2 linked regions of the Homo sapiens genome follow. The protein of the gene in region 2 purifies or fractionates together with the protein of the main gene of each other region. This does not show direct contact. Each region holds a gene or a part of one and is shown on either strand. Other genes may lie near its edges.

What was found.
Region 1: the proteins of SDR16C5 (region 2) and HK3 purify together in Homo sapiens (affinity purification with mass spectrometry; one large-scale study listed by BioGRID and IntAct). This does not show direct contact.

Annotation. Positions count from the first base shown.
Region 1 is NC_000005.10:176,885,847-176,889,655, reverse strand, and holds part of HK3 (hexokinase-3), read left to right. Parts: coding exon 1-11; intron 12-91; coding exon 92-275; intron 276-791; coding exon 792-947; intron 948-1,090; coding exon 1,091-1,324; intron 1,325-1,909; coding exon 1,910-2,205; intron 2,206-2,318; coding exon 2,319-2,455; intron 2,456-2,534; coding exon 2,535-2,654; intron 2,655-3,758; coding exon of another isoform or gene 3,759-3,809. UniProt on the Homo sapiens protein: Catalyzes the phosphorylation of hexose, such as D-glucose and D-fructose, to hexose 6-phosphate (D-glucose 6-phosphate and D-fructose 6-phosphate, respectively).
Region 2 is NC_000008.11:56,317,373-56,321,783, forward strand, and holds the start of SDR16C5 (epidermal retinol dehydrogenase 2), read right to left. Parts: upstream 2,804-4,411; 5' UTR 2,687-2,803; intron 1-2,686. UniProt on the Homo sapiens protein: Oxidoreductase with strong preference for NAD. Active in both the oxidative and reductive directions. Oxidizes all-trans-retinol in all-trans-retinaldehyde.

The sequences.
Region 1 (3,809 bases), on a different chromosome or scaffold from region 2:
GCTAGTTGTAGGTGAGCCATGGACCATTTGTGATGACAGGTGGAGGGTGTGCTGCCTGGCTAGCAGGCCTTGACAGGGTTGTCTCTGCCAGACACGGGCACCAACGCGTGTTACATGGAGGAGGCACGGCATGTGGCAGTGCTGGACGAAGACCGGGGCCGCGTCTGCGTCAGCGTCGAGTGGGGCTCCTTCAGCGATGATGGGGCGCTGGGACCAGTGCTGACCACCTTCGACCATACCCTGGACCATGAGTCCCTGAATCCTGGTGCTCAGAGGTGACCTGGCAGGGGGCCCTGACCTTTGGTTCCAGGCCCTGTCTATGACTGCTCTGCTCCCAACCCCTTCTGTCCCTGTTCTCAGGCCCTTAGGCCCCTCCCTGTCACTCTGAGGGTCTCCAGGGAGCAACCTGGGGGCCCTGGCCAGGTTCAAAGAAGGAAGGGCCCAAAGTTCTAGAATCCAGAATTGTCAACCCTTGATCTTCCCTGTTCCTGACTCTGGCCTGCCCTGACAGTTTGGGGGTTGAGGGCTGGAAGTGGTTGAGCAAACTGCTCTCTGCCTTCCTTTGGGTCCTTCTTGTTCTCCAGGAGGCTTCTGAATGTAACCTATGTCAGAGGGGGCAGTGGGGTCTGGGCATACACCCACCTGTCCTCTGGGAGGCTATTCGTTGCTTCTGGAGTCTCCAGTTTGGGAGCCCCAAAGAAAAGAATCCTTCTTTGGGAACTCTTGGAGGTAGGGCCAGGTGGACTGAGGGCTTAGAAAAGGCTTCCTCCAGCCACCCTTCCCCCCTGCAGGTTTGAGAAGATGATCGGAGGCCTGTACCTGGGTGAGCTGGTGCGGCTGGTGCTGGCTCACTTGGCCCGGTGTGGGGTCCTCTTTGGTGGCTGCACCTCCCCTGCCCTGCTGAGCCAAGGCAGCATCCTCCTGGAACACGTGGCTGAGATGGAGGAGTGAGTCGGGGAGATGGTGGTTTAGTGGGGGATTCTTGGCTTGGAGGAAGGGGATGATACTCTGTTCCCAAGGTAGCCATGGGGCTTTAGTGGGATGGGGAGCTTCTGGGCTGAGCCCCAAACCACTTCCCTTTCCCCTCCAGCCCCTCTACTGGGGCAGCCCGTGTCCATGCTATCCTGCAGGACTTGGGCCTGAGCCCTGGGGCTTCGGATGTTGAGCTTGTGCAGCACGTCTGTGCGGCCGTGTGCACGCGGGCTGCCCAGCTCTGTGCTGCCGCCCTGGCCGCTGTTCTCTCCTGCCTCCAGCACAGCCGGGAGCAACAAACACTCCAGGTTGCTGTGGCCACCGGAGGCCGAGTGTGTGAGCGGCACCCCAGGTATTGTGGAAACGTGATCCGCATGATTAGTTGGCATGAACACGTGTGTGTGATACACACCCAGAGGGCCCTCTGGGATCACATGTGCAAGCCAGTGGACACGAAGGGCACTTAGGCAGAGGGAGGGCCAGACTGAGCTATGGGAGGCCAGAAGACATCCAAGGAGAGAAACGATGCTTCCCTTTGTGTGTGCAAGGGTGGAGGCCATGGCGACACGGGGGCGTATGGCTGGTGCACAGAACAGATTTCAAATTGAAGTGATAGGGGAGGCTGGCTATGGTGGTACACGCCTGTAATCTCAACACTGGGAGGCTGAGGTGGGAGGATCATTGGAGCCTGGGAGTTTGAGGTTACAGTAAGCCATGATCACTCCGTGGCACTCTAGCTTGGGTGAGAGAGCAAGACTCGATATCTACAAAAATAAAAAAAAAAAAGTGATGGGGCCTTGGGCTTCAGGAGGCCCTAGGGGTCTGGGGCCAAGCTGGGCACACCTGTATGTATCTGGGGGTCCAGGGCCAAGCCGTGCACACCTGTGTGTGTCTGGGGGTCCAGGGCCAAGCCGGGTGCACCTGTATGTATCTGTAGGTTCTGCAGCGTCCTGCAGGGGACAGTGATGCTCCTGGCCCCGGAATGCGATGTCTCCTTAATCCCCTCTGTGGATGGTGGTGGCCGGGGAGTGGCGATGGTGACTGCCGTGGCTGCCCGTCTGGCTGCCCACCGGCGCCTGCTGGAGGAGACCCTGGCCCCATTCCGGTTGAACCATGATCAACTGGCTGCGGTTCAGGCACAGATGCGGAAGGCCATGGCCAAGGGGCTCCGAGGGGAGGCCTCCTCCCTTCGCATGCTGCCCACTTTCGTCCGGGCCACCCCTGACGGCAGCGGTAAGGACCTGGCCTGAGTGTGGGACCGAAACATGGGCTCCTGGGGGTCCCAGTGTGTGCTGGGGCTGGAGCCACAAGCCCTATCCCGGCACTGAGGGTCTCTGCCCCCACAGAGCGAGGGGATTTCCTGGCCCTGGACCTCGGGGGCACGAACTTCCGTGTCCTCCTGGTACGTGTGACCACAGGCGTGCAGATCACCAGCGAGATCTACTCCATTCCCGAGACTGTGGCCCAGGGTTCTGGGCAGCAGGTACCCACAGCCTGAACCTTGATGTCAGAGGTGGGGAAGGGCTGAGCAGTGCCTACGCCTGACCTGTCCTGCCCCACAGCTCTTTGACCACATCGTGGACTGCATCGTGGACTTCCAGCAGAAGCAGGGCCTGAGCGGGCAGAGCCTCCCACTGGGTTTTACCTTCTCCTTCCCATGTAGGCAGCTTGGCCTAGACCAGGTGAGGGAGGGCCAAGAGAAGTGATTCCCAAGGGCCTCCTGCCCCCACATACCCTTCATGGAGTGGGCAGGAGGCAGGGGAAAAGGCTGGGCGGTGGCGGGTCTGGGGTTGGTGGTGGTGGCAGCACTGCTGGGCTGGGCTTGCACACAGCCTCAGTTTCCCCAGACAGGGTAGGCCCAGGGTTAGGGTCTGAACCATTTGGGAGCAGGTCAGGCCTAGACTGGGGCTGATCAGAGGACAGATCGTCCATTTTAGCTATAGCACTGGTGTGTGGGCCTCAGGGTCCTGCAGGAACCAGCATTTGTTCCTGTCTCTAGCAGGGGCTTGAGGTCGCTTGGGGTTTTTTTGGCCTCTCTCCTCCTCCTTTCTTTGTTTCCTTCTCAGTGCCTGGCTCAGTGTTGGGTGCATGACTAGGGTGGCAGAGTGCCAGGCACAGGCTAAGACACACATCCCTACTCAGCACACACTTTAGCTTGTTCTTACACAAGGATGAGGGACTTCTCAATGTGCACACCGGAAGCCTGTCACGGAAACAATACCTCCCGGGCCTCTGGTCCAAACTCCCAGGAATCTCCCTTTCAACATACCCAACTTCTGCTTGAAAGCCTCTTGCCAAGGAGCTCACTGCCCCTGAAGGCAACAGTTGCATTCTTAGACACCTGTGATCAATGAAAAGCTTCATCTCACCTACTCCAACCAGCCTCCATGTGATTTTCACCCCCTGCTCCTGCTCTGACCTCTCTCTGATATGCAACTCATTTTTTTTTTTGAGATGAAGTCTCACTCTGTCGCCCAGGTTGGAGTGCAATGGCATGATCTTGGCTCACTCACTGCAGCCTCCACCTCCTGTGTTCAAGCAATCCTCCTGCCTCAGCCTCCCAAGTAGCTGGGACTACAGGCACATGCCAACACGCCCAGCTCATTTTTAGTAGAGATGGGGTTTCACCATGTTGGCCAGGCTGATCTAGAAATCCTGATCTCAGGTGATCCGCTCACCTCAGCCTCTCAAAGTTCTGGGATTACAGGCGTGAGCCACCGCACTCCACCTGATATGCAACTCTGTACTCTGCTTTCTTTTACACGGTGGTCCTTTGGATGGTGCAGTGGGCCAGTCTTGCTGCTTGGCTGCTCTGCTCCAGGCTAAGCCTGCTCAGT
Region 2 (4,411 bases):
CACACTTTAGTGTGAATGAATATATAAGGTGTGCTTTACTAACCACTAGCTGAGAAAGAAGGGAAGGTCTTATTTCCTTCAGGATGGGAACAGAAGACATATTTAGCAGACAGCATACTGTGCTGGGGGTGGGAGCCTTCTCTGAATGGGGTGTTTAATTGAGAGGCTCAGACAAAGGCACAGGTGTGAGGAGACAGGAGGGGAGTAATGAAAAAAGAGCAGGTCTTCACAGTTTGGCTGAAGTCAGCCTAGTTGCGGTTAATGAGTAAGGGTGGATAGATTCATCTACAGGAGGACTTGGTATGTGGTCACACCCTTAGGAAATGTCGAGAGTCGATGCAACCCAGGCTGTTGTTCCTGGCTTATTGTACAGATGAGACTGAGGATCGAAGAGAAGATGTATGTGACTTGTTCAGGGTCCCTGTGCTGGTTAGCTGGTGAGGGCCAGATTGGTTCATGTGTTATGTTTATTGAGTATCCACCCTGTGCTGGTTCTATCTGGGCACTGGGGCTGAGGGGATGGGCAGCCTCTCATAATCTCTGTGCAGGTGAGCCAAGTAATCTAGTTGAAGAGACGTATTCAACAAATAAACAGATCGTTATAAGCCATAGTGTTATAAAGAAAAGTGCAGTGTGCTATGGAGAGGATGATCGGAGAGCTGATTCAGATTGGGCTTGGGAGAGGAAGCAACAGATGTCTGCTGGAAAGTGACCCTTTGAGTGGATATCCAAATGATGATGGTGGGAGGTAGGGATATTGAGCAGTAGCTTTCCTGGCAGAGGGACAAAATAGTTTGTTTTAAGGCAGGTTTGACCTGTGTGTCCAGGGCTGTCCAGAGAATAAGAATGTTTGCTCTAAGGAACATGGATGCTCTGGTCAAATGAAGAACGTTTTCATCCATGCTTTGATGAAATAGACCTCAAACTCTCTGTGATCTTTGCTCTGATTTACATTCACAGAGTAACTTTTGAATGATTGATCAGGCCTCTCAGGCACTGCAGAACTTGAAAAGGTGTCCTGAAAGAGGACTCTCATATCAAATACATGGAGCCTGTACCTGTGGATCTGCAAGGATGAGGGTCAGACTGTGCACACAGTAATGGGAAACCCTAGGCGCCCTTCTCAGACAGCAGCCTGGGCGTCGCCAACTTTGGAAAATCCACACCAGGAGTAGTTGGTCAGACCACCACATTCCCTTTTATATCACTATGTGAATTCACATAGAGGGACAGAGGTCTACTTCTCCCATCACAGGGCTCCAGCACCTCAGCAGTGGCCAGAAGTCTCAACATTGACCTGGGTGACATGAACGCTCTTAATGTCAGGACATTCTAGATTTCAGTGTTCCACTGTCTCAATGTTGGCTTGATGCAAGACCTAAAATATGTCCATCTTTTAACCCTGTCTTGGCAGATGCTTACTAGATTTCTAAGAGCTTGTCAGCCTGAGTTACCTCCCTTCCCCAGTTGAAGTTTAGGGTGCCTGCTGGGTACCCACACAGGCAATGAGGTCTAGAGATTAAAGTTTGGGTTGGAATTCCAGATATATCACTGATTTTCCCTGCAACTTTGGTAGAAATGATTTAATCTCTTGTGCCTCAGTTTCCTCCTCTAAAAAGGGAGTTTCTAATAGTGCATAGGAATACTTACCACACAGAGGAGCTGTGAGAATTAAACCAGTTTATATAGGTAAAGTTTTAAGGAGCATTATGTGGTCACTACTAGCTTGTGTGAAACCTTCGAACAAATTAGAAAAAAAAAAAAAAAAAGGCATTGCCCTGCACAAAGTCCTCTGCGGGGTGCAAGGGGTTGGGGAGGGGGTGCAAGAGGAGCTGTTTGGATTTCAACACCTGCCAGCTTACATGTCTCCCCCTCTGCTCCTCAATCCCCATAATAATGTGGCACAGCCATAAAACATGGAGGCCTTTCTAGAACAGTGCCAGGCACAGAATGACAGCAAAATAATTAATGGCTAGAACTTCCACTGGTCCTGTTAAGCATATGAATTAATAATCCCTGGCTATATCAATTAAATATGGTTATAGTATACTTACAAACAAGAGTGAATGTACGGTTCCATTTTACTGCAAAGACTTTCCTAGAATGTTACGGAGCGTATACAATTTAATCTGGCAGAAGTCTTCTAGGTGTCCCTATCTCGCGGCCTACCCAATCCAAACAGGCGCCCTCGGCTTCCCATACCAGTGCGCGGCAGCAAGTCGGCTCTGGTGAGGGCACCCGGACGAAACGGGAGGGCAGACAGACTGACAATCACAGCTTGGGTTGAAAGGGGTGATATGGGGGTTGATATCCACCCGGAAGGTGGATGCACTGAGCAGCAGAGAGCAGGGAACCTGGGCAGAACGGACCGAAGAAGAGGGTCCGGGGAGGCATCCTGCCCTCTGCTCCGGGTGGGGAGGGAGGCTGGCAGCTCACCCCCGGGGGCGAGGGGTCTGCGTTAGCCGTAGCCACGGGAGCCCGGGCTTCTGGGACGCTCAGCCGTGCGCTACCCGGTGCAGCTGCTTTCTCACCAGCTCGCGGGTGGGTCCTGCCGCGGCTCGGCGACCCGCGCCCCCTTGCGAGCGACCCAGCGTGAAACCAGCCCAAAGGGCGGCCTCGCCCGACCCCCGCCAGCGCGACCTCCTCCGGGAGCCAGCACCCAGGACCGACGACCTCGGCAACTTACCCAGGACACTCTCCCTAGCTGTCCGCGGAGAAGCCGGCCTCGTCTGCCCCAGGCACCCGAGTCCCTGGCTCGGAGCTCAGTCAGGTTCAGGTGTTTATCCAGGCGCCGCCCAAGTCCAAGGGCGGGACTGCCGCGGCAGCGCCAGGGGTGGGGCCGGCCGTAGCCCCAGTGCGCGACGTGGGCAGCACTCCCATCTTCTTTTTCTGGACCTGCAGATTTAAGAAGCTGGAAATTCGGTGGTGGAAACTGGATGCGTGCGCCGGATTTCTCTTAGGCTTAACGTTTCAATGCCTAGGCTGTACCCTAGATTATTAGATGGGAATTTCTGGGTTGGTAGGGGCCTAGGCATTAGCTAGAAAAGTTTCCCAGGTATTTGCAAGGCACAACCCCGAGGTTGGGAACCCTGGAATTAGAGAACAGAGCAGTATAGGCGTCCACGGGGGAGGGGCCAGGTCGTGTGTCTGGAGCCTGCAGTGCGGGGAGTTCTCCAGCAGCATCTGACTGCTCCACATGGGATCTTAAGTCAACAGCTTCCTTGCCCCTTGGAGGTAAAGGATGTGGGCGTGGGCTCGGAAGTCCCCGGGAAGTGGGTGGGGTGCAGGCAGGGGCAGGAGTGGGTGCGGCGCTGGCAGGCGGCCTAGGAGAAGAGGGCGAGGAAATTTGTTCTAACAAGATGAAGCCGAGAAATGAGGCTAGCGTAAGAGTCACCAGGCACTCTGACCCAATCAAGATATATTAAGCATCTGGGTGTACAGCGATCCAGAAGATAACAGCGATGATATATCTGTCAAGAAAAAAAAAAAGGAAAAACATTCATTAATAAATCAATAAAAGAGTTAATATAAGCACAAGACACCACTGAGATGCTAATAATAGAGGGTGAACTTTTCTGGGGGCAATGAGGGGCAGAAATGACAATAAATTATGGGATGTTGAAAGAAAAACAGGGGAGTCATGATGAGATTGGGTTTGAAATTTATCCCGGGGCTGAGTAGGACAGGAAAAGTGGTGAGGGGTCGAAGAGCAGCCTTAGCCAGCCCATATCTGGGACAGGTCTGGAGTAGAGGAACTGCACATTTGTTCTTTATTTGGGTGACAGAAGAAACAGGCAGGTCGTATAAGCTTGGAAAAGTAGGTGCAGGGGAAACCCTCGACTGTCTTTTCAGTACTTAAGAGGTTACTTGTGTGCTTTAGGCAGCAGCAGCGAGCTGTGGCAAGCTATGCGAGGCGTGTGGGAAGGTGAGTGGGTAAATGTGCGTGCATTGGTTTCAAGTCAGCCGTCACCACACAGCGACACTGCTGTGTGGGGCTCTGGGGAGTTGCAGGGCTTCTGAGGGAGAAGGGAGACACATTCATAAACAGTGCGGGTGATAGACATGCACCCCAGGTGCTTCCAGAGTCCACAACCAGCCTGCAGGAGGAGAGGCAGTTGGACTCAAAGGGCCTTCCAGAATGGGCTAAGGTGTGGAGGTGAGCAGCACCTGGGAGTGAGAGTGGACTGAGGCAGAGAGACGTCGGGTAATGGGCCCTTGATGGTGCAGCCTGCCTGCAAGAGTTCAGATGAGTGGACACTGGGAAACACCAGCCTCCTATTATCTTCATGGCTTCTCTGAGCAGAATCCTAGGCTGTCACTCTTCTTTCTGGTCAGAAGCCCTGGGTGGACCTCAAGAAAGAAATTTGGAGCATTATTAGAAATCTCATCAGTACAAAAGATGAGAGTGAGT